Linked DNA regions of Homo sapiens: regions 1, 2, 3 and 5 are each linked to region 4. Evidence: fine-mapped expression QTL. A gene starts in region 4. Each other region holds a variant in brackets. All regions are shown on one strand. Distances are between the middles of the regions. Region 1 holds the start of LOC105369957 (a long non-coding RNA gene). Region 2 has its middle 44 kb from the start of C12orf75-AS1. Region 3 overlaps C12orf75 (chromosome 12 open reading frame 75). Region 4 holds the start of C12orf75 (chromosome 12 open reading frame 75). Region 5 overlaps C12orf75 (chromosome 12 open reading frame 75).

Evidence for each region.
Region 1: its variant is fine-mapped to the expression of C12orf75 in whole blood (INTERVAL, PIP above 0.99).
Region 2: its variant is fine-mapped to the expression of C12orf75 in pancreas (GTEx, PIP above 0.99).
Region 3: its variant is fine-mapped to the expression of C12orf75 in whole blood (INTERVAL, PIP 0.98).
Region 5: its variant is fine-mapped to the expression of C12orf75 in whole blood (INTERVAL, PIP above 0.99).

What each region holds. Positions count from the first base shown.
Region 1 is chr12:105,371,232-105,376,328 of GRCh38, forward strand. C12orf75 (chromosome 12 open reading frame 75) reads left to right here. Exons shown (of 6, transcript NM_001145199.2): 6 at 1-287. It overlaps LOC105369957 (a long non-coding RNA gene), which reads left to right and starts at 883. Exons shown (of 3, transcript XR_945302.3): 1 at 883-1,236. The variant C/G (reference allele first, on the strand shown) is at 2,742.
Region 2 is chr12:105,279,998-105,285,102 of GRCh38, forward strand. No RefSeq gene overlaps it. Among named protein-coding and RNA genes, the nearest start is that of C12orf75-AS1, 44 kb to the right of the region's middle. The variant G/A (reference allele first, on the strand shown) is at 1,977.
Region 3 is chr12:105,361,859-105,366,963 of GRCh38, forward strand. It overlaps C12orf75 (chromosome 12 open reading frame 75), which reads left to right. Exons shown (of 6, transcript NM_001145199.2): 3 at 3,949-3,984; 4 at 4,759-4,838. Among named protein-coding and RNA genes, the nearest start is that of C12orf75, 34 kb to the left of the region's middle. The variant G/A (reference allele first, on the strand shown) is at 2,604.
Region 4 is chr12:105,327,956-105,333,044 of GRCh38, forward strand. C12orf75 (chromosome 12 open reading frame 75) reads left to right here and starts at 2,736. Exons shown (of 6, transcript NM_001145199.2): 1 at 2,736-2,982. The coding sequence starts at 2,937. RefSeq lists silencers at 2,372-3,031, 3,062-3,161 and an enhancer at 3,818-4,361.
Region 5 is chr12:105,354,106-105,359,210 of GRCh38, forward strand. The region is part of intron 2 of C12orf75 (chromosome 12 open reading frame 75); the gene reads left to right. Among named protein-coding and RNA genes, the nearest start is that of C12orf75, 26 kb to the left of the region's middle. RefSeq lists a silencer at 3,531-3,600. The variant T/C (reference allele first, on the strand shown) is at 2,808.

The DNA of each region.
Region 1 (5,097 bases), 43 kb after region 4:
ATAAACTCAAATTTGCATGCCATATGCACATTTTGATTACATTTTTATTTTCTTTCGTGAAAGGCATGTGCAACTACAAATACTTCATAGCTGTTTGGGTTGCTCATTCTACATCACGACAATCTCATCATATTATTTCTATAACTTTTCAAGGACTTGCGATGGATGGTTAGTGGGATATCTGGAAATTAATTTGATAATGACTTGTGTATCTACTTAGTATTGCAATGTAAGTTACTCAATTCACCAATGTATTTCAACAATTAAAACATTTTTATCCCTCTTCACTTACATTTCTTAATTATTTTTCAAAAGAACACTTAAAGTCACACATGGCATTGTGATGTATAGATACATTATATAAACATATGAAGATAATAATATATAAGTAGATTACTAAGAAAAACCAAAGTTTTTCATAGGAAGAAAGGCATTATCTTATATATTTGGTCTGTATGACAACCACAGGGACATCAAATTGATAAAAAATTTCAAAGCTAAGAATTACTAAGAAATTATCCTGATACACACATTCCTGTCTCATGTTCATAAGTCCATAATGGTATTTAGGTGGAATATCAGCAGTTTGTCCTATTAGGAATAACAGATAGATTGACTTTTTTTTTTTTTTTGGTGATGGAGTCTTGCTCTGTCTCCCAGGCTGGAGTGCAATGGCATGATCTCGGCTCACTGCAACCTCTGCCTCCTGGGTTCAAGCGATTCTCCTGCCTTAGCCTGCCAGGTAGCTGGGACTACAGGTGTGCACCACCACGCCTGACTAATTTTTTGTAATTTTAGTAGACACGGGGTTTCACCATGTTGGCCAGGCTGGTCTTGAACTCCTGACCTCAGGTGATTCACCTGCCTTGGCCTCCCAAAGTGCTGGGATTATAGGTGTGAGCCACTGCACCTGGCCAGATTGACTTTTAAAAAACTTTTAATTTTGAAAAAATTTTAGATCCATAGAAGCACATAAAGATTATATGAAGAGTTCCTGTATGCGCTTAACCCAGCTACTTCTGATGTTAATCTTGCATGACCACAGTACATTTGTCAGAAGAAATTAAACATAGGTACAATGTGATAAACTACAGCCTTTAATTAGATTACATCAGTTTTTCTACTAATGTCCTTTTTGTTTGTTTCAGGATCAAATCCAAGATTCCATTGCATTCTGTTGCACTTGATCATCCTGTTTCCTTATTCTCCATTTGTCTCCTTAGTCTCCCCTTCCTGGTACTTTCTTCGTCTTTCCTTGTTTTTCATGACCTTGACACTTTTTTAGCCTACTGATTACATATTTTGTAGTGCATTTAATTTGAATTTGTCTGTTCTCTTATGATTGGACTGGGGTTGTAGATTTTTAGGAAGAGATATTAGCTGGGTGTGGTGGCACACACCTATAGTCCCAGCTACTCAGGAGGCTGAGGTGGGAGGATTGCGTGAGCCCCGGAGTTTGAGATTGCAGTGAGCTGTGATCGCACCACTGCACTCCATCCTGGGCCACAGAACAAGACCCTGTCTCTGGAACAGAGATTGGTGGGAAGAGGACCACAGAGGTAAAGTGGCCCCCTCATTAGAGCATATCATTATATCTCATGATCTCAACATGACTTATTACTGCTGATATTGACCTTCATCACTTGACTAGGTGATATCTGGCAGCTTTCTCTTTGATAAAGTTTCAAGTTTTTTATTTATTTATTTATTTTTTTTTTTGGAGATGGGCTTGCTGTGTTGCCCAGGCTGGAGTGCAGTGGCACGATCACAGCTCACTGCAGCCTCAAACTCCTTGACTTAGGTGATCCTCTCGCCTCAGCCTTCTGAGTAGCTGGGACTAGAGGTGCATGCCACCACACCCAGCTAATTAAAATTTTTTTTGTAGAGGTGGGGTTTCGCTCTGTTGCCCAGGCTATTATTGAACTCCTGGCCTCAAACAATCCTCCTGCCTTGGCTTCCCAAAGTGCTAGGATTACAGGTGTGAGCTACAGCACCTGGCCTCTAGTTTTCCGTTTTCATCCCCTGCTCCTTATAAGTGATAAATGAACCACTAAGTTGAGACCACACTCAAGGACAGGGGAATCAAGCTTCACCTCCTGGAGAAAAGAGTATCAAGGAATTTTTGGACTCTTAAAGGCACCACGGTAATTAATAAGTAATTTGGAGAAGATAGTTTGAGACTCTGCAAATACCCTGTTTCTCCTTAGAGTTTTGCCCACTAATTTTCAGGTTCATCCTTGGCTGTTGTCTGCAGCATCTGTTATGTGGCATAAAAATGTGACTTTCTATTTCCCTCGTTCCTCTACCTGTATTATTTGGAATTCTTCTCTAAGGAACATTTGTCCATTTTTCCCCCATTTACTTATTCAGTCATTCATTTTCATCAGTATGGGCTTTTGGATATTTATTTTGTCTTTTAGGTTATAATCCAATACTCTTGCTATTTTGTTGCTCAAATTGTTCCAGCTTTGGCTTCTGGGAGCTTTTTCAGGTTGGCTCTGACATGCTCCATCCTGCCCCCCACCTCCACTGCCTCCACCTTTGGTTGATTTTTAGTAACAAACAGGCCTCTAAAATAAAAATCCAATTCAAAAGTTTGTTTAAAACACATTCCTAAAACTTCATCACTTTTCATCATAACTGGATAGTAATTTCCATATTGTGATAAGTCTTGGCATTTTTCTTCAACTAGACATTTTTAAAATTTAGAACCTTGTGATTCTTACTTGCCACCCACTTAA[C/G]CTATATCTTAAAGCTAATGACTATAATTTTTAATAAGTACTGCAAGAAACTTGAGTGAAGAACTCAGAGAAGAATAAATAACATTAAAACATTTCAGAAGAAAAAGAGATGGGTAAAGCCTTAAAAATGCCTGATATTTAAGAGTTAATGCCTTTTCAAACAATATATGGTTTCTTCGCAAGATTATTATTGAAAAATACAATGAAGAGATGAGTTTCTGAGATTTTCTGATTGATAAGATTGTCTGAATAAAAAAGGTTTTCTTAAGAAACCTTCTAAGCTAGAAGGCACTCATTGCTAGACTCAGTTAAAGAAGACAGCTATAATTTAGTTTTGGAGACCTGCTTGGAACTCTGGAATGTAGAAAACTCTGGTTTTGACAAGTACAGCTGACTTCTGGGGTGCTATTGAAGAATGCTGGCCTGTTGGAAAGTGATCTGGACTAGGCTCTGGGGAGAGAGGCAAAATGATAGAAGGCACTAAGTTAATACAGTGGGGAGTTGCCTTTCTGGTTTTTTGAATTGTTAAAAGAGTTTGAAGAGGAAGAGAAAACAGGCTTAGTTTTGCAAATGGGAGCTAGTGTATCTGTACTGTATCCATGCCCAAGGGTGGGAAGAATTTCTGGTGTGGAAAAGTTATGTAAGGAACTCATTCCCAGGAAGATCGTTTGCATTTACTTATTTACATATACTTGATGCACCTGATCAATTCAAGCAGTACAGAAGGATGAGGTGCTTTTCGTAGATTTTGTCCCAGTACCCAGTTCTGATTTTCCGTTGTTTCTCAACCATCACCAGTTGAGTTCTTGCTGTGCCCCTGATGGGCAATGGTTACTGGGGTACAGCTGAAAGACCCGATCCATGCACTCAAGGCTCTTCACATGAGTGGTGGATACTCTGGGTAGCCTGTAAGGAACATCTAGAGCAGTGGCCGGGGCTGGTAGAGATTGCTTCGGGACCACAGAGCAGGGACGCCTAAGTCAGGATGGTGGACGAAGGAAGACTTCCCAGAGGGCAGTCCCTGGTGCAGAGCCATAGGGAAGGTGTGAGTTTGCCAGCATAGATCAAGGAAGAAAGCAGCTTCAGGCTGAGAACCACAGGTGCAGAGACACCTGGAACGCTCTTGGCATAACCTGGGAAATGCTAGGAGTTGAGCCTGGCTGGGTGGAAGGTGATGGTAATGGGATGGGAGAGGCAGGCAAGGTGAGCTTGCGTGGAGCCTGGAGGGTCACCTTTGAACTTCTGAAGCCTGTGAGAAGCCACTGGGGAATGAAGCTGTCATGGAGCTTAGGTGCTTAAGGGCCGTCATGACTGGTCTTAGTTTCCCCTCCAGTGCCTGGTTTGTGGGTCTGTCTCTCTAGTAGGCATGATAAGTACTTGCAGTACTTTCCATGTCTTATGAAGGTGTAGCTTTCCCATTTAATCTATAATATTATATAAACTACTTGGAATTTTCAGGTGCATCATGTCGGGGTAGATGTAGCCAGGCAATGAGTGTGTCAGGAACATTCCATTAGGGCAGGGCCATGCCTATCCCAGCAGCAGGTATAATCATCAGCTGCTTGGTTTAGGTTTGTGACAATGTTGGGGTTATCTTGTTGCTTCACGTATTTCTCCCATGTCTTTTTTTTTTTTTTTTTTTTTTGAGGTGGAGTCTCATTCTGTTGCCCAGGCTGGAGTGCAGTGGTGTGATCTCGGCTCACTGCAACCTCCACCTCCTGGGTTCAAGCAGTCCTCCCACCTCAGCCTCCCAGGTAGCTAGGATTACAGGCGTGCACCACCATGCCCAGCTAATTTTTTTATTTTTATTTTTAGTAGAGAGACGGGGTTTCACCATGTTGGCCAGGCTGGTCTCGAACTCCTGACCTCAAGCAATCCACCCACCTTGGCTTCCCAGGTAGCTGGGATCACAGGTGTACATCACCGTTCTCGGCTTCTTATGTCTTTTTTCACAAAACTATTCCATTAAGACAAATTTCTGGCTGGGTGTGGTGGCTCACGCCTATAATCCCAGCACTTTGGGAGACCAAGGCGGGCAGATCACGAGGTCAGGAGTTCGAGACCAGCCTGGCTAACATGGCAAAACCCTGTCTCTACTAAAAATAAAAAAAATTAGCCAGGTGTGGTGGCAAGTGCCTGTAGTCCCAGCTACTCGGGAGGCTGAGGCAGGAGAATCACTTGAACCCGGGAGGCCCGGGGTTGCAGTGAGCCGAGACTGTGCCATTGCACTCCAGCCTGGGTGACAGAGTGAGACTCTAGCTCAAAAAAAGAAAAAAAAAAAAAAAAAAGACAAATTTCTTTCTCCATTAGTGAAGTCTCTGACACTTAGATAATGTAGTACTCAATTATATAATTT
Region 2 (5,105 bases), 48 kb before region 4:
AATTAAGTTATTAGATTTTTCTGTGCATCTCCGCCATACTACAAGCCAACCACCACTAAAAATCCATGGGTTGGAAATAGGTAGAGCGATCCAAGGGTGTGCTCTACCTAAGATTTCCAACCCATGGGCTCAGCTCCTAAGTCAGTGCTCACCAAGCCTGATAGCACATAAAATGCGCCCATTTGCACAGCAAGTAGAGAACAGAATTTCTGCCGTTCCCCCAAATGAGCATTTATTAAGCCTGAGTGACTCCCTGGGCACCACTGGAACTATCCAACTCTAGCCTTCCAATCACCCACCCTGTGTGTCTGGCCTGACTGGCAGAGGTAAGTCATGACTTGTGTGGCTGAACTCGCACTAGCCTTTTCTCTCGGGGGTTGAACTATGTTCTTGTCTATGTCCAGTGGCTAGAATTTTCCTTCATCCCTGGGGAAGTTTCTCCTGGAACCAAAGTAATGCCACCCACCTTGTAATGCATCTTGTTGCTGCCTAAGGACTACTGTGGCCACATCCCACCTCTGGGGACTGACCATTCTGATCAGTGGGTCAACCTTTTGTGTGTCACAGAAGCACTTAAGAATCTGATGAAGGTTAAGAAGAACTCTTTACTGATATATGTATCATTTAAGCAAATATCCTGGAATTTTGCAAACAAATTTAAGGACTTACAGATTTCCCTGAACTTTTTTTGCAAAACTACTCATTTTTGTAACCAGTATAGAATCTTGTATGGGGCACTTAGTAAATGTTTGTTGAATTGAACTGCATGAACTAAATCTCAATTCAGCAATCCTAAATGCAGAAACAATTACACACACACACACACACACACACACACACACACTAGTTATTTGTTTTGCTCCAGAAAAGGACTTAAAGTGGTTAATATTTAGACATTTGCTTCTTTAAAACATCTTCATAAGTATCGAGACTCAGTAGAGACAAATTCCTTTTCCACTTAATTTAACAAAGACTCAGAATTTTTTTTTAAAGAAATAGTATCAGAATACAAAATGAAAAAAGCAAATCGCCCAAAACCAGTTAAAGGACATAAAACTGAATTCTTGTAGTTTGCATATTTCTTATCAGAGTGGTTCTTAGTCCCCTCCCTCCTCCCAAATTCAACAAAGCCATTGTTAACAGTGACTCAGACTACATTGATTCCAATGAGGGTTGGCTGTGGGCCACACTTTTACTTGGGGATCACGGCAAACTTTCTGGGGAGAGGCCATAGTTTAGAGGAAGGCCTCCAGGGGATTCTGATATCTCTGCCTTTTGGTATCCCCACTCTCATTAGTGTCCTAGGATAACAAGTGCTACTCAATCATTAACTCAGTTTGGCTTATTGGGCACAGAACCTTCTGTTCCTCTGTTGATCTGGTTAGGAGAGCAGGCTTTAAACCGTCTGAATTTGAATTTTGGGTCTATCACTTGACCTCTCTGTGCCTTAGCTCCACTGATATCACCTGCCAAAAGCCCTCTTTGGTGCTAACAGAACACAGATCTGTTCTGATATTAGTGTGATGTCCCTTGACCTCGGGTATTCCTATACCCTATCCCAGCCCCAGGATATGAATCATGATTGGTCAAAAATACTCATAGAAATCTTATTCCTTTTGGTCAGCGATTAGTCTAAAGGTGGGCTTGCAACCCAGGTATGACCAGAGAGATGGAAAGGCGAGTCAGCTGAGGTAAGTCGGGAACATAATCCATACCAAATATAAGGCAGATCCTTAGGAGGAGAAAATCCTTCCTTGTTCTTCCTGCCTAGATGCAGACATGATCCTGGAGGGGCAGCAACCACCTTGTGGCTTGGAAAGGAAAGTCAACATGCTAAGAAGGCAGGAAGGGAAAACAGAAGGAGCCTGGTAGTTGTTTGTTGTTGCTGTTTGTTTTAGAGTCCAGTAGTTTAATTGTATAGTGCAGTTTCTGCATCAGCTCTGGACTTTGGACTCCTTATTCAGTGAGAAAAATAA[G/A]CAATTCATTTGTCAAGCCCCAGTAAATTTTGTTATGTACAACTGAATGCATTCTTATCTGATATACTCAGTTTATAATTTATAAAGTGAGGATAAAAACAGTACCAATCAGAAAGGAAGTAAAATTACCCTTGTTCACAGAGGACATAATCTTATATCTAGAAAACCGTAAAGATTTCATTTAAGAAATCCAAAGTGTTGAACTAATGAATGAATTCAGCATAGTTGCAAGATACAAAGTCAATGCACAAAAAAAATTCTGTTTCTTTATACCAACGGTGAAATTAAGAAAACAATTTCCTTTTTAATAGCATAAAAAAGAATACAATACTTAAGAATAAACTTAACTAATGAGGAGAAAGGCTTGTACATAAGTATCAAACATTGCTGAAAAAAGCTAAAGAAGGCTTGGCTAAATAGAAAGTCATCCATGTTCATGGGTGATTATTGTTAAGATGGCAGTACCATCTAAAGCAATCTATAGATTCAATGCAGCTTCTATAAAATTTCAATGATACTTTTGGCAGAAATAGAAAAGCCCATCCTAAAATTCATATGGAATGTCAACGGACGCCAAATACACAAAACAATCTTGAAAAAGAACAAATATGGAGGGCTCCCACTTCCTGATTTTAAAACTTACTACAAGGCAACAATAATCAATAGTAGATTACTGACATAAAGACAGTGAAATAGAATAGGAAGTCCAGAAATAATTTCTTGCTTGTATGGCCAAATAATTTTTTTTTTTTTTTTGAGACGTAGTCTCACTCTGTGGCCCAGGCTGGAGTCCAGTGGCGCGATCTCGGCTCACTGCAAGCTCCGCCTCCCGGGTTAATGCCATTCTCCTGCCTCAGCCTCCTGAGTAGCTGGGACTACCGGCACCTACCACCATGCCCAGCTAATTTTTTTGTATTTTTAGTAGAGACGGGGTTTCACCGTGTTAGCCAGGATGGTTTCGATCTCCTGACCTCGTGATCCGCCCGCCTCGGCCTCCCAAAGTGCTGGGATTACAGGCGTGAGCCACCATGACCGGCCATGGCCAAATAATTTTTGACAAGGGTGCTAAGATAATTCAATGGGGGAAAGAGCAGATTTCAAAAAATTGTGCTGGGAAAACCAGACATCCACATGCAAAAGAAGGAAGTTGAATCCTTATCTAAGATCATACACAAAAATCAACTCAAAATGAATGAAAGACCTAAATGTAGGACCCCAAACTAATAAATTCCTAGGAGAAAACATAGGGAAAAAACCTCATGACATGGATTGGATAATGATTTTTTGCATATTACATCAAAAGCACAGGTAGCAAAAGAAGAAATAGTTTTTCATCAAAATAGAAAACTTGTACAACAGCAAACGATATTATCACAGAGTGAAAAAGGCAACCCATCGAGTGGGAGAAAATAATAGCAAATCATGTATCTGGTGAGGGGTTAAAATCCAGAATATATAAAGAGCTCCTACATCTCAACAACACAAACAACTCAATTAAAAAATGGACCTTAATTACTTTAATGTACTGTAATTAATTTACTTAATTGGAGGACTTGAATAGACATTTCTCCAAGGAAGATGCACAGATAGCCAATAAGCACAGAGAGATTCATCACTAATCCTTAGGAAAATGCAAATCAAAACCACAATGAGATGCCACTATAAGGTTAATGCTAAACCATTGGCAGTACCCAGAAGGAGAAGTTAAGGAGTCTAATCTCTCCTCTGGCTGCTGTGTGGAGGATGGACTGTGTAAGGGTAAGAGTGGAGGCAGGGGAACTCGTTGGGAGATTGCTGCAAAGATGAGGCCAGACATCATGGTTTCAACTTGGGTGATGAGATGTAGGGTTGTGGTTCTATTTTGGAGGTTGAGTCAGCAACATACATGGCTGGACTCGATGCAAGATTTTAGGGTGAGGGAAAAATCAGAATAAGCTCTAAGTTTTGTACCTGAGCAATTGAGAATATGACAGTGCAATTTACCAAAAAGAGGAAGGTTTAGTGAGGAAGCAGGTAAGGGGCTGACTGGTAGGGGAGAGAGAGGAGTAGAAAAGTAGATAGCTTTGTTTTGGTTCTACAAAATTCGGATGCCTACTGGACTTCCAAGTTGATATATGATTCTGGAATTGGGGGGTTGGGAATTGAGTATCATAAATATAGAGATGGTACTTGAAGTCAAGGGAGAGAATGTAGAGAAGAGACAGGGCCAAGGATAGAAATTTGAGCTACCTAAAAGATAGAAGCCTTACAGAAAGGAAGAACAAAATAAAAAGGCTGAGAAAGAGTGGCCACTGAGTTAAGAGAAAGTCCAGGTGAGTGATCTTACAAAGGCTCAGAAAAGACTTTCAAGAGTGACAGCATGGTCAACTGTTGCTGAGAGGTTAACTAAAAGGTAATGAAAAAGGAACTAGGCTTTGGCTAGATGTAGAGTATCTACATCTTGATAATGACCTTGATAATGGAGAAGTGGTAGAGATAATAACCCAACTGGACTAAATTGAATACAGAATGGGAAGTAGGAAAGTGAGGATATCAAATATGGACATGTCTATATAGGAACTTCGCTGAGAAGAACTTTGTGGTTGATTGGATGTGGTGGGTGAAGCAGAGAGAGAGACCAAAAATCTCTCCCACAGTTTTGATCTGTGCAACTGAGTGGATTGGAGGTGCCAGTCACAGAAGCTGGGTTGTTGGGTTGTTGGTTCAGGATGCTGGGAGGCTGGGGAGTTGAGAGGGATGGGTGCCTTCAGCTCCACATCTACCCAGGGCTCTTTGGAATTTTTGTGAAATGATGGAATCCTTCCTTCTTTCTGGGGTAAGGCACATGGTCATTAATTAACAAAGATTAATTTCACAAAAAACATGTAAAAGCCCAACAATTTACACATGGGTTTTAATTTGGGTGCGTTTTTAAAATGCAAAACAGCAAAAGGCAAACATGAGCTCTTAAATCCCTCTGCTGTACTACTTCTGAGATTGAGAAATCACTTCTTAATTATTAAGAAATACTCTCTAACACAAGCAATTTTCTTTTAATTTTCTTTAAAAAACAGCAATCAGCATACACTGCTTTCAGTTGTTCAAATGAATTAGCCTCAATTTATAGACTCAGTACTGGGAATTATTCCA
Region 3 (5,105 bases), 34 kb after region 4:
TTCTGATTTAACCTTAGTCTGGACCTGGTTGTCCAGATGAATAGATTCTAATGTAACTGCTCATCAGAACAACCTTTGTACCTGCATAAAAATGACTTATGTGGCAATTTGACAAGATCTGCGAAGATTGATGGTCCCTGGCAGCAGTTAGAGGTTGTTTCTCATGCTGATGAAACAGACTAGGACTCTTCTACAATCTTGTTTCTGACTTTTCTTGAGTGGGATGATAAAAATTGGAGAGCTCCTGGCCGGGCGCGGTGGCTCACGCCTGTAATCCCAGCACTTTGGGAGGCCGAGGCGGGCGGATCACGAGGTCAGGAGATCGAGACCATCCTGGCTAAAACGGTGAAACCCCGTCTCTACTAAAAATACAAAAAATTAGCCGGGCGTGTGGCGGGCGCCTGTAGTCCCAGCTACTTGGGAGGCTGAGGCAGGAGAATGGCGTGAACCCGGGAGGCGGAGCTTGCAGTGAGCCGAGATCCCGCCACTGCACTCCAGCCTGGGCGACAGAGCGAGACTCCGTCTCAAAAAAAAAAAAAAAAAAAAAAAAATTTGGAGAGCTCCTTTGGGAGGCTGAGGCGGGTGGATCATGAGGTCAGGAGATTGAGACCATCCTGGCTAACATGGTGAAACCTCCTGTCTACTAAAAATACAAAAAATTAGCCGGGTGTGGTGGCGGGTGCCTGTAGTCCCAGCTACTCAGGAGGCTGAGGCAGGAGAATGGCGTGAACCTGGGAGGCGGAGCTTGCAGTGAGCTGAGATCGCGCCACTGCACTCCAGCCTGGGTGACAGAGCAAGACTCCGTCTCAAAAAAAAAAAAAAAAAAATTGGAGAGCTCCAGCTGCGGGAAGGTGCATGTTTCTCTAATGCAAATTAGCATGGGCCTACAGTGTATGAAGCAGGAATTAGGATCACACAAATCTGGGTTTGAATTCTGGCTCTATGATTTAGCTTCGTAAGTTCGGTCATGCTACTCAGTTTTTTCATTTTTAAAATGTGAGTAGTACTGGTCTTGCAAGATTGTATAAGGATTAAATGAACTAATATAATAGGATTAGCAAAGTGCCTAGTATAGTTACACAATCAGGTTGAGAGATGGGATGATGGTCAAAGCTTTTGCAAAAGCAGTATGGAGGTGAATCGCCCACTTTAGGAGAAGCCACTACGTTGGTCTTTCACAGGAAGTGTTTTTGACTTTTACATCTTTCTACCTGAGAAGCAGAGTGGTGAATGAGAATGGAGCATGGCTTTGGTGCCAGATGGATGGGGTATGGATGTTGGTCATGCTTGTTAGTCTTGTATGTTTATGAATTACATGGCTTTCTGCACCTGGTTCCTCAGGCCTAGGCCCTCAGAGCTGTTGTGAGGAATAGCATGGATGCACGTGCAGTGTCCTGCACTGTGCCTGACACACAGGAGAGACTCATGAATGACACCATTATACCCACGGAGTCCTGGTCTCTAGTCCTAGTGTTGTAGAATAACTGTTTGTGGAAGGAATGGATGAAGTGACAGTCTTATACATGGGAGTGAGTATGCAAAGACAGGCTTTACAACTTACTGGAAGGTTTAAAAGAGTGGATATCTGGCCGGGCGGGGTGGCTCAGCCTGTAATCCCAGCACTTTGGGAGGCCGAGGTGGGAGGATCACGAGGTCAGGAGATCAAGACCATCCTGGCCAACATGTTGAAACCTCGTCTCTACTAAAAATACAAAAATTAGCTGAGCATGGTGGCACGGGCCTGGAATCCCAGCTACTCGGGAGGCTGAGGCAGGAGAATCACTTGAACCAGGGAGTCAGAGGTTGCAGGGAGCCGAGATTGTGCCACTGCACTCCAGGCTGGTGACAGAGCAAGACTCTGTCTTAATTAAAAAAAAAAAAAAGAGTGGACATCTTATAAGTCTTTATAGGTAGTATTTTTTTTAAGATTTGGCATTATATCTGAAGCTTAATTTATTATCCAATAAATATGGCAACTACATTATCATTTCCTGCCAGTTATACATGTAAGGTTGTTGATTAATTTTATAATGGAGAACACAGATTGAGTTTTAAGATATTGAGTAATTTAACAGGAGAAAGTAAATGACTATTTTCTTACATTTGGGAAAGTGAAAATATATTTTAAAACCTTGAATATATCCTTAAGCACAGTTAAGCAAAAGGGGAAAGAATTAAAATAAACGGATATGTAAATGGATGTGAAAAGAATAGTCATGGCCGGAAATGTGTGTCATAAGCTACCAGTTATATACAGATTCAAGTGATTTCTTGAGAAAGTTAATCACTCAGGACCAAAGTAAACAGTTCTTATCAGAACTTACCTTGAACGAGTTTGTCCTCATCATTTCTCCATTATCTATGCTAAAGGATTATAAATCCATTTTAATTAAAAGTAGTGAACAACTCTCTCTTATACCACATCAATAAGCATAACACCATTAGTATGACTTTGACACTTGAACTAAAAAAACAATCCAGCGTTAAGAGGTAAATGAAGCTGATAACCATCTAGTGAATTTAGGTTATATGCTCAGTTTGGATGAATTAGGTCTCAAGATGGATTTTGCACTCTCTTCCAGTATTAGCTGTTCATGGCCAGC[G/A]TTCACCAGATAATTATTAAATCTACACTTTCCTTCTTTATAGACTTGGACTTACTGGCTGTTGCAATAAAGCAAAAATCTCATGCACATATACAGTCACATTTGAAATATTCACAGCTTTTAAGTGGGTAAAATCATAGTTAGACAATCTCTGAATCAGAAGAGTCAATGACATTTAGATGTTTGCAGTCTGCTTTTTGCTCAACTGAAGCCCCTTAGTGTTACAAGTTGAATTCAGCCAGATACATTGGAATCTTGTTGAATTATTTTTTTTTTCTTTCAGAAAAGCAACTTATGTATGCCAACTAGTGCTTCAAGGAAAGTGTCCTGATTCTCTTAGAAATACGCCAAGGAATTCTGGTAGAATATGGACTCCTTTTTTTTTTTTTTTTTTTTTTGAGACCAAGTATCCCTCTGTTGCCCAAGCTGGAGTGTAATGGCGTGATCTCTGCTCACTGCAACCTCCACCTCCCGGGTTCAAGGATTCCTGTGCCTCAGCCTCTTGAGTAGCTGGGACTACAGGCGTCACCATGCCTGGCTAATTTTTGTATTTTTAGTAGAGATGGGGTTTCAGCATGTTGGCCAAGCTGGTCTCGAACTCCTGACCTCAGGTGATCCGCCCGCCTCGGCCTCCCAAAGTGCTGGTATTACAGGCATGAGCCACCATGTCCAGCTTGGATTCCTCTTAATGCAAGGAGAGAAGCTGTGCATTTTAAAGTAGTGATCCCCTCTAAATGTATCCTTTTAAATATTTCTCCCTCTCTTTGCAGTAGATCATGTATGAAATGGCTCATGTTTTTAGATAAAAAAAAATCAAATAGGCATTAACTCTTTTTGCACTGAAGAAGTCTTTCAGTACCTATAGTTGTGCCACTGAAGTGTCATAAGAGATCTAAAACCATGTATTAGGACTGGAAGAGACCTGAGGGGTCATCTGGTCAACCAGCTTATTTTACAAATGAGACACAGGCTGGCAGCTCGCCCACAGCCTGTCTGTCACACAGGGAGTGGGTGGTACACACAAGACGATAACTCAGGCTTCTTTCCAATTTCAGCTGCCCTCAGTTTTCCATTTCATTTGGCAGTTGTGCATTTTGGCATTTGCTGGATTCACACATTTTGGTTTGTAGAAAATTACCAAGTTTTAACGTATGAATGATTGAGGTGAAGGCAGAATATTGTCACAGAAACACTTGATGGATAGTTTTGCTCCTCTACTTAAGTCTGATGGAAACATTTGAAATAAAATTGACTTCAACTCAGTAGTCCCTTTTTCTCATAACCAAAAATGAAGTCCCCGACTATGTAACCAAGTGTCTCATAGCAAATGTTTCTGACCTTTTAGAACAGAAGAATCCGTAACAGAAGATGACAAGAGGAGGTATGTTTGGTATTGCAGCTGGCTTTAGTTTGAATGGTTTTGGCCATACCTCATGGATTTAACACACTGTAGCATATTCCCAATAACACAGATTCTGCCAGGAAAACTGTTGGCACAGAGAATACAGGTAGGGGCATATGGTCTGAAAAAGAACTTGCCCAGGATTCATCATCTTTGCTCCTTCCAAGCAAACTTGGTTTTTGTCCTATGCATGTGGCGTGTGCTAATTTTCATCCTATGACCTTTGGGTGTGCTCTTCTCCCTAACTGGATGACTTCCCTTCATTCTCTCAGCCTTCCCTGTCCTCCTACTTCTCTGATTAACTGCACTCCACCCTCATTTCTCTCTTGCTGTCTCTGCCCTCATTTTGTATCTCTCTATTAGTAAGATATCTTTGTGTGTCCATAATGCCTAATATCATACCATGTTGACCACTCTGAATTATTGATAAATGTTAACTGTAACATGTCACTGTATGATATTTAATACTCTAATAAATTGTAACATCCCAAAGTCTTTTCTTCTTTCTCATTACAAGTAAAATATCTAAAAATTCTACTAACGCAATACATCTTTCTTTTTTTTAAAAAAAATAGCTTCTTTTTAACCTAGGAAACCAATTATATTCCCAAGGGCCATAATATTCTAGATTCTACTTTTGAAAAATCATGAGTTATTTTAATAATTATATAATTGTTTGGAGTACTCCGTGCTTCTGTTGCTTCCTGTAAATAGATAGTACCATTTAAATTGGTTTGATTTCTTTTTATCAAGAAACTATGGAGGAGTATATGTTGGCCTACCATCTGAAGCTGTCAATATGGTGTCCAGTCAAACAAAGACGGTTCGGAAAAGTAAGTGAAATCATGTGCTGTTGATTTTCCCTAATTATTTATTTTTATGTTTTATGAAAAAGCATGAAATTTATATTTCAGCTTACTCGACTCAACCTATGTATTGGTTGCAGTGAACCATGTATAAGTACTGTCTGTTCATTGCAGTCATTGGTTGAAATAGCCACCCACATGGTAAGAAGAATTCCAGAGCATAATTTAGCTTTTATTTGTGGTTATGCTCCATATTTTTAATTTCTTGTTAATTTTAGCAATGATCAGTGTGAA
Region 4 (5,089 bases):
CAAAAACTGTGATTACTTTTGCACCAACCTTATATCTAGAATAGCACCTCTCCCTCTACTCCTAGTCTCCTATTCCAGTGACTTATTTTTTCCCATCGCACTTGTATCTAAAATTATCTGATTGTATTTGCTTTGATGTATCTCCTCCCACTTGATTTTTCCTCTCTCTCTTGTTCACTGCTGTCTCTCAAACATTTAGAAGAGTGGCTGGCACTTTAAAAACAGATTGGGGGTACAAGTGCATTTTTGTTACACGGATGTATTGGGTGGTGGTGAAGTCTGGGCTTTTAGTGTAACCATCACCCAAATAGTGTACATTGTACCCAACAGGTAAGTCCTCATGGCTGGAGCTCTTAAGGTGATACTCAATAGTGCTTGTTGAAATAATGGATAGATCACATAATCTATAACATTATAGGGCAGAATGCACACTACGAGGAACCATGAGATATCTCAGTAAGTGAGTGTTAGAAAAGAACCTACAGGATTTAGGTTCATAATAGGTGATTTTGGTTGGGATTTAAGGAAGCAGAACTTTTTTTTTTTTCTACATTGGATATTGTCAGGAAGCAGGGACAATTCTATGATTAGAGATTCTTAATGAACCTCATCTCTAGGCAGGAAGACAAGAACAGGGCTAAAACCATAACTGGTAAAGCAGCAGCAGACAATCCTATCAGGCAGGATGGGGAGATGTTTGGTGTTTTGGGGGTTTGCACAATGACCTTGTTTTTGTCAGCACTTAGACAAGATTACCGAGTCACCTTGTTTTTTGTCTCATTTCATAGTTTATAGAGTGGCCTTGTGTGATATTGGTGTTCTATGCAACTGTGTTTAACAGGAGAATGCAAAGGCCCAGCTGTTGAGTGTCACAGCTTCTAGGCCAGTTTCTAGGTGTCAAGGTCCATTTTCTGTCTCTTACAAGTGTCCTAAGGCTGGAGTCTAGTGTCAGCACAGAAATAAGCAGGAGAATATCTTTCGGCTACTTGATAGTTCCCTTTTCCCCAGTTCTGGCTATGTATTAGGATGGACACTGAACCAAGACAGCACAGGCTGGTAGAGAAGCAGTACTTCTAGAAGTCAACTAAAAAATGCCTTTATTTATCCAAGAATTAATTATCCTCTCAGCACATGGCTACCACAGCTAATTTTCAAATGGAGAATGCTGTATATTTTGCATCCTGAATGATAGAACGCACCATTGCCTCAAAGGCCATGTTCAAAAACCTGCCAAGTCCTTGATTCTGGTTCATATTTTTATTTTTATGTAAACACAACAGTATGGTTTCAGGGAAGTCTGTTTTTTTTTTGTTTTGTTTTGTTTTTTTGAGACAGAATCTCGCTTTGTCACCCAGGCTTGAGTGCAGTGGTGCTATCTCGGCCCACTGCAACCTCCACCTCTCAGGTTCAAGTGATTCTCTTGCCTCAGCCTCTTAAGTAGCTGGGATTACAGGTGTATGCCACCACACCCAATTAATCTTTGTATTTTTAGTAGAGACAGGGTTTCACCATGTTAGGCTGGTCTCGAACTCCTGACCTCGTGATCCGCCCGTGTCAGCCTCCCAAAGTGCTAGTTTACAGGTGTAAGCTACCATGCCTGGCCTTAGGCAAGTCTTTTAACTAGCATCCCAGCATCCTCTGGGACTCTATGGCACCTGTATTCCTCTGTTAACATTCCTTCTATATTGTAATTAATTTATTTTAATCTATCTGCCTGGTTAGACTGTCTCCCACATATTTGTATCCCCGGAACTTAACAAAGGACTTGGCACAGGCTAGGCTCCCTACAAATATTAAGTGAATTTAAAATGGAGCTTTAATTCCTGGCTTGAAGTCACCTCACAAAACATTTAGTGAGTCTGTATTACAAGCCAGGAGGACGCTATGAAAAATCAGATAGTCTTTCCCTTTAAGGAATTTGTATTCATTTCTATTAGAGTTAATAATAATAATGATAATAGCTGATATTTACTAAAGATAGGGAACTTTGTTAGGTACTTTATATGTACCTGAGTTACTGTCATTTTATAGGTGAAACAAGGGATGTACCCAATGGGTTAAGTTACTTTCCTGAGGTCACGCAGCTATCACGGGGCAGAACGAAGACTTTAACTCAGACAGTCTGACTGCAGTAACGCTGGCCCAACTATCATGTTGAAACGTACAGCACCGTGCCCATCCACAGTTCTCTCATTTATCAGAGAGGAGGTCCTGAATCCAAGTTATTGAAATCGTTGCAGACATTTGTTTTAAAGAGGAATAGGTCAAGATGACCAATCTGGGGAAGAACTTTTGCCAGGCAGTGCGTATGGGGAACAGAGCTGCGTTGGCCTTCTGTTAAAGCAGCTGGGGATTTCGGTTTTGGCTTCAGACCTGCACAACATTCAGTCAATAGCATTTATTGGGCGTCCACTGTGCAGGGTGCCCCCTGCTACTTCCTCTCCTCCCCACATCCTGGGGCAGGGAGGGGAAGTGAGGAAAGAAAAGCAAAGACAAGGCGAGGAGGATGCTGAGGGTGGGCAGGTGGGCACCCCCACCCCGCTGCGCCGGCCACGCCCCTTGCCGCTCCCTCGCCCCGGGGCCCACTTTAAACTCCCGCCCCTCGTAATAACGACCAATGGCCGACCGCGAAGCGCGCAGGAGGCTGGGGATTGGCCAGTGCCGAGGTTGCTGGGGCGACGGGTGGGTCCGGCGGGTCCCCGGGCGGGGCGGGGCCGGGGCGAGGGGTGCCGGGTGGTTTCCGCCCGGCAGCCCGCAGCCCGCTGCGCCCCGGGCCGCGTCTCCCGGCGGTGGGAGGGGGCGGCCCCCACTCGGTTCCTGGCCCCTCGCGGCCCCGTCAGCCTCCCGCTCGGGGTGCGCCGCCCTTCGTCTGGGTCTCCGCCCCCAGGACCCGCGGCCGAGAGCTCCGGAGCGCGGCTTCCCCGGCCGGCTGCGCGATGGGCTGCGGGAACTCCACCGCCACCAGCGCGGGCGCGGGCCAAGGTGAGTCCGGCGGGAGGCGGGGGCCGGCGGGGGCGGGCGGGAGAGGCGGCGGGAAGGAAGGGTGCAGGGATCTTGGGTGGGGGGCGCGCAGCCCCCTCTCCCCGTCCCCATTTTCGGGACAGGAGCAGACCGCCCGTTTCTGGAAAGACCGAAAGCGTGGCAAGTCCCCCGCGCGGGGGCGGTTGCGCCTGGAGCAGTCGAGCCTGCGGGGCGTCTCTGCCGAGGGAGCGCGGGGAGGACTGTCGCGGGCTCCCCTGCAGCCGCCGGGGCTCACCTGCAGCTGGCGGGTCTCAGGGCTCTCCTGGGGGAGAGGATTCCCGGACGTGGTCCCCGGCCGCTCCCCCACCTCCCACACTTGCTCCTCCAGGCCTCTCCCCCATCTCCTCGGAACCAAGGCGCTGCACCTGGAAAAGTGCAGCAGAGCAAGACAGGACTTTTCGGGCAGTGGTGGTGGGGCAGGAAGCGGGGAAGGGTGGGAGTGGGGTTGGGGAGAACTAGAAGCAGAGCTGCAAAAACGCATCTGTGTCTGCCTTGATGCCGAAGACCGGCTGGGCTGCTCTTAGGATTTCTCTGAGAAGCTGCAGCAGTAAGGATGTTTTACATATGTGAGACAGAGCTTTATTATTAACAGTCTGTTAAGATACTTTTCATTAAACACACACACACACACACACACACACACACACAAATAGAAACTTCTTTTTATACCACTTCATGTTGATTGGCAGGCAAGGTCTTCTAGCTTCCCCGGGCCAGCCAGGCTTTGTGTCAAGTGACTTTTGCCAAAACTCACCCTTCTATTTCACCCTGCCTATGTCTCGGGATTTAAGGTACCCTGGATCTGTTTTGAGTAATAACTGCTGACCTATTTCAGTGTCCTTTTGGATAAAGAGCTCCTATCTCCTCCAATTGAAGTCAACCAGATGCCACATCCTAGCCTAACCAGCAAATGCAAACAGCAGTCAGAGGCTGCGGTATTTCCTAGGCGGCTGTGGAGGCCCTGGCAATGACTTTGTAACCTTGGGCCTGTCACATCCCTTAACCCAGACGCCGGTAAAAAATGGAGTTTAAGACTCAATTTGAGTCTTGAATTAAATCCTGTCCTGGTGACAATGCAGAGAGCCACAGGAGAGCGAACTTTTTAGATTCATTTAACAGTGGGGAAGGTTAGTGTAGCACCTTATGCTAATGAGGGCAGACGGGCTTCAAACCTGCCTGTGGCCAGAAAGCTCTGCTTGTATGAAACAATGTCAGGGCCACACCCCGCACTCAAATTGTGTCTCAGTCTACTAGGTACTGTGGCCGTATGCAATCCACTGCATGTGTAGCCTACTTAAAAAAGGTGAAGAAAAGTTATCCACATTAAAAAAAATTGTAGGAAGGATTTGTAGCAGATTTCCCTTAAAATGAGGCTAGTTTCATGCATGTACATTTTGATTTATTAATGAACTGCTTGTCAGTTTTAGGGATGGGGAGGGGGTACCATTGCCAAATGAAAATCAGAATGATGGACCAGGCGCAGTGACTCATGCCTGTGTAATCCCAGCACTTTGGGAGGCTGGGGTGGGTGGATCATCTGAGCTCAGGAACTCGAGACCAGTGTAACCAACATGGTGAAACCCAGTCTCTACTAAAAATACAAAATTAGCTGGGCGTGGTGGCGCCTGCTTGTAATCCCAGCTATTTGGGAGGCTGAGGCACGAGAATTGCTTGAACCTGGGAGGCGGAGGTTGCAGTGAGCTGAGATCGCACCATTGCACTCCAACCTGGGCAACAAGAGTGGAACTCCGCTCCATCTAAAAAAAAAAAAAAAGAAAAGAAAAGAAAATAGAAAGATGGTAAGGTATGATGAGCTAGCTCTAAAATGTTAATGTAAAAATCAAATTTGGGGGGAAAATATGATTTCTTGGGGAAATATGATTATCTTTATGAATATTTGATTGACTTTTTCCCTAGGAGCATCTCTCTTATCACCTAAAGGGAAGTCATATTGAAAAAAAAAAAAAAAGCTACCGAAAGAGTAGTTTGAGGAGCAGCCTCACTTTTGTTTGTGGACAGTGCATGTGAGAGCATGCTATTCTCTCCTCCAGCTTGCTGTTTGCCAAAA
Region 5 (5,105 bases), 26 kb after region 4:
TTTCTCATCCATGTAGTAGAAGGTAACGCTGTCTTCTGAGGGTGAAGAGGATGGGGTTGAAGTAGCATTGAAAAAGCCTGCATTTTGGAAGCAGAGGGACTTGTGTTTAAAATCCCCTTCACCATTTGCTAGCTGTGTTACATTGTGTCCTTAGTATAATTATCTGTGAAATTGGGATAATATAATAACTGTGCAGGGTGATCATCTTCATCATCATCATTCTTACAGTAGTAGCTAATCTTTACTGAGGACTGTGCACCATACACTGATTTCCAGCATTTTCTGTACGTTATCTCCTTCCATACCCATGATAATCTGATGGACAGAATAATGATGTTTCATTTTACAAGTGAGGAGGTGGGGAGCACAGAGAGCTGAAGTAGCTGCTGGAGGGACAGATTACAAATACAGTATATTTAATATCCTAGGAAAATACTTGGCATTATGCTTGTTGCCCCCGGTGAATGACAGCTAGAATTATTAGTTAGTTTAAAATGTTGTTGAAAAAATTTGGCAGGGCCTCTGACATGAATACTTGATGGCAGAAGACCCAGCATATTGAGGGCCTTGCTGTGGTTAGAAATCATATATTCCCATTGGTAGCCATGATGAGATTTTCCTTAGGTCGGACCCTGTGAAATAGGAGCAGGAAGAGAGAGAGCAGATGGACGGATTCATCCAGGGATGGAGAGGAATAGGTGGTGACCAGCAAGTGCTGCAGAAATACTTGACTGCAAGACATGTGCTAGGGAGAGAGGGAAGGGAAACACGAGGGGCTGATGGATAGGGAGGACGGGGAGGGATGGATGAACTGGAGCTGATGTTGCAATAAGAAAGCAGCCTTCTTGGGAATGATGGGACTATCGAAAGGAGGATTTTTTTTTCCTCCCTAGGGAGTGGGATTTTCTACTCTAAAATGTGGTAAAATAGTTCCAGGAACTATACTCCATGGAGCAGCCATCGGAGTATGTTAGCGGAGCAGCACAGAAGTTGTTGGGATAGAGGAAGTCAGCAAAATATGAGGTGAGAGGTTGGATGGGTGGTTTTCACGAATTTCTTTTTCTTTTTCTTTTTCTTTTTTTTTTTCAGAGTTTTGCTCTCTTGCCCAGGCTGGAGTGCAGTGGCACTATCTCAGCTCACTGCAACCTCTGCCTCCTGGGTTCAAGTGATTCTCCTGCCTCAGCCTCCCAAGTAGCTGGGATTACAAGCGCATGTCACCACGCCCAGCTGATTTTTGTGTTTTTAGTAGAGTTGGGATTTTGCCATATTGGCCAGGCTGGTCTCGAACTCCTGACCTTGTGATCCGCCCGCCTTGGCCTCCCAAAGTGCTAGGATTACAGGTGTGTGCCACTGCACGTGGCCATTTTCATGGAGTTTTAAATTGACCAAGATAATGGTGCTTAGAAAGAAAAACTTTGGGTCAGGGTCAAAATCTTTGGTGCTCTGGGGACAGTTATGGCAGGGTTTAGACTCCAGAGAGGAGAGGTTCTGAGTGAAAATGAAATGGCCCCACCTGTAAGAGCTCTGTGGGGAGATGAGGAGCATGCTGGCTCTGTCTCCTGTTAGGAGAAGCTAGGGTAGGTGAGAACAAGATGCATATTCTTGAGGTTTTGAGAAAAGTGGTGCCAGCAAGGAAAAGCCAAATTTCTTAAGGTAAGGAGATGAAGAGTGCACCCTTGCCTTATAGCAAATGATATTTTTACAACCAATTCTGAAATAATTCCTAACACTGTGTGCCCCTTAGTAAGAGAATAACTGGGGGGAGGAGAGCTAGAGAGGACAGGGAATTTGCAGTCTGGCTCTTGATCTCTTGCTTCTGGATAAAGAGAAGTTGAAAGCATTCCTTTGAAGTGAATGTTACTCATGTTCTCCAGTCATACACTCTGGAAGAAAGAAAGGGACTAATATTGGCCAATGGGCTCATCCAGGGAGAGAGATCAAAAGAAAACAGTCCAAAGAAGTTTTGAAATTGGAAAGAAATGAATGATATTAAACATAGGCCAAAACAGCCAATGGTAAAACATAATTCATTGTGTAATTAAGGGTTTGCTAGAATGGATTGAAACCACCCCAAGGAGCAGGAACCATCATGAAAACATGTTATAAAGAAAATTAAATAATTATATTTTATCTGGAGAATTGTAGTGTAGATGGAAGTAAACACAATCAATTAATAAACCTATTCCAGAAGGTTATCATGAATGGTAACTAGAAACAGATCAGGAGAGCCATGGTCTCCAGGGTTTCCATATTCAATTTTTACTGTTTACGAGTCAAAGTAAGTTTAGCCTCTTTAGTGACACTGCAAATAGGGAAAAAGAAAAGACTACAGGCTTTTTTTTTTTTTTTTTTTTTGCTTTTTAGATCATCTCTAATAAGAATAGCTGTATATTTAGAACATTTTTCTTGATGAATAAGTAAAAAATAAATCATTTCTTTGCCACATAACTTTGTTAGTTCTAGAAGCCTAAGGGAAGTGAGAACTTTCTGAATTTTCAGGTAAGTTGTAGCAAGGATGACTTGGGAGCTGCTGTTTCAAATGGCTGGCTGCTATCTCATATTTGTCATCTGTATTTGTCCTTGATCATGACATGGTTCCATTATTTCACTGTTAAAATCTTTAGGTCACTTGGGATAGCTATTTTATACAACCCAGAAACTAAGTAAATGTAATGATGAAAGATTTTGACTACCATATATTACTGAGGAAGAAAAAGATTCATATTTTATGTATTAACTTTGAATAAGGTTTCACTTAATGAAAGTGATAGTTATTGGTAAGATAAATCATAGTAATTTAAAATGAT[T/C]GTAAGGTTGAGGTGTTCCATGCAGATATTTGGTTTTAAATAGGCATGCAAAAAATACATTAATTTAAAAAAAGGCCAGGTAGGCGAAAGCCCACCCACCCCAAAGAGCAGCCACAGAGACATGGTCGTTTTGGAGGCAGCCCACCTTCCAGAACCCCGACCTACAAGAAGACAGAGCTTATTTATGATTAGAGAGACATTCAATGTCTCCAGTTCATTCAGAAAAAGTCTGTGACCCTAGTATAAAACAGAAGGATGCATAACTACCTAGAGAATCTGGATCAGCACTGCTATTCACCCTGAGAAGGGTAAGAAGAGCACCTGGCTGGTTTTAGTAAGTTCACAGGAAGTGAGCTAGAAGTGGAATTAATAGAAACTCTGAGACAGAGGAAACCCGAAGCCATCCATCTGTAATCTTAGTTGCAGTGGTTGCCTTTGGTCAGTTGCTTTTTTTTCTTTTCTTCTTTCTTTTTCTTGCATGCCGAGTGTCAAGCCAACTTTGATAAGGTACATATCACTAAACAGTATCTTACTCTACAAGAGTGAGTCATGTTTAAACCATCAACTGAGGATTTATCTTTTCAACAATCCCAAAAGACGTTGAAAGTGGGGAGAATATGAGTTACGGGGGTCACCTTGAATAACACTTGTTTCTGCAAACAGTTTTATTAATGCTATGACTGAAAGTCTGACTCAGAGCCCTGTAAGTGTGTGACCTTAGGCTAGGAGATGATTATGATACTCAACGGGTGGCTTGAACCTCGACTCATTCTTTCTCCTTGATCACCTGTTCTTTGATAAAAGAAGCTACATTTTTTTGCTAACAAAAGGAGACCTGATTTTAGTTGAATGCCCAATGTATTTTCTGTGTGTGTGTGTGTGTGTGTGTGTGTGTGAGAGAGAGAGAGAGAGAGAGAGGAGAGAGAGAGAGACAGACAGACAGACAGACAGACACAGGGTCTTGCTCTGTTGCCCAGGCTGGAGTGCAGTGGTGCGATCATGACTCACTGTAACCTCGACCTCCCAGGCTCAGGCAGTCTTCCCATTTCAGCCTCCTGAGTAGCTGGGACTACAGGTGCAAGCCAGCATGCTTGGCTATTTTATTTTGTATTTTTTGAAGAAACAGGGTCTCCCTTTGTTGCCCCAGCTGATCTTGAACTCCTGGGCTCAAGATATCTGTCTGCCTTGGCTGCCTGAATTGCTGAGATTACAGATGTGAGTCACTGCGCTGGGCTCAGTGTATTTTTTAAACCTGGTCCAAATTGGTGAATACATGTTCTATGGTTCTTAGGGAACGTTCCTGTGGTTTAAAAGGTTTTATAGCTGGGCATGGTGGCACGTGTTTGTAGTCCCAGCCACTCAGGAGGCTAAGGTGGGAGGATCACTTGAGCTGAGGAGTTCGAGACCAGTCTAGGCAACATAGTGAGACTCCATCTCTACAAAACCAAAAAACATATATGTTAGCCAGGTGCGGGGTGTGCGCCTGTGGTGCCAGCTGCTAGGGAGGCCGAGATGGGAGCATCGCTTGAGCCTGAGAGGTTGAGGCTACAGTGAGCTATGATTGTGCCACTGCTCTCCAGCCTAGGCTATGGAGCAAGACCCTGTCTCAGAAAAAAACCAAAACAATAATAATAAATAAATACAGGGTTTTCCTGATAAGATGGTATTTGAGGTTATGATTAAAAAATATTTCAGTCTTACATTTTTTCAAATGTTGCATTACTTTCCACAAATTTTTCAAATGGTATAGATGAGGAGAAACAAAACATTGTCTTGATACCAGAGAAAGCAATTTACCGATAGGTTTTCAGTCATGCTTACCCTGGAAAAACAAGCTTATTACACAAGTTTATTCTTTAGAGTAGTGGCTCGTGTGCAACTAGAAAATGGAATCACTGCTCAGTAAATTAATGTAAATCCTTTAGTACTGGCTTCCTCCAGCACTCTTTGGACTCCAGAAGTCAGTCTTCCTTCTAAGATTGGCTCTGGGCACAGCTGTAAAGCGGATGATGTTTCGACCAAACCCCAGCACTTGGTTCCAGTCCCTTCCCTTGGGTCTTCCTTCCCCTTTCACTTCTCTAATGGACTTAATGTCTAGCATAGCTCCCCTAGCAAGAGCAGGATTTGTCTTGATGTGCCACGTACTTATTTCCAGATTTCCCTTGATCCCTTGGTAATTTGGGCTAGTTTCTCTTCCCCTGCGTCGGCACCAACGTTTGACTCCATGGTTGTGAAATTGAAGAAGTCGTGATAAGCTTCAATGCTTGGGGCCAGGCCAGAAGTGGTGGGAGGCAAACT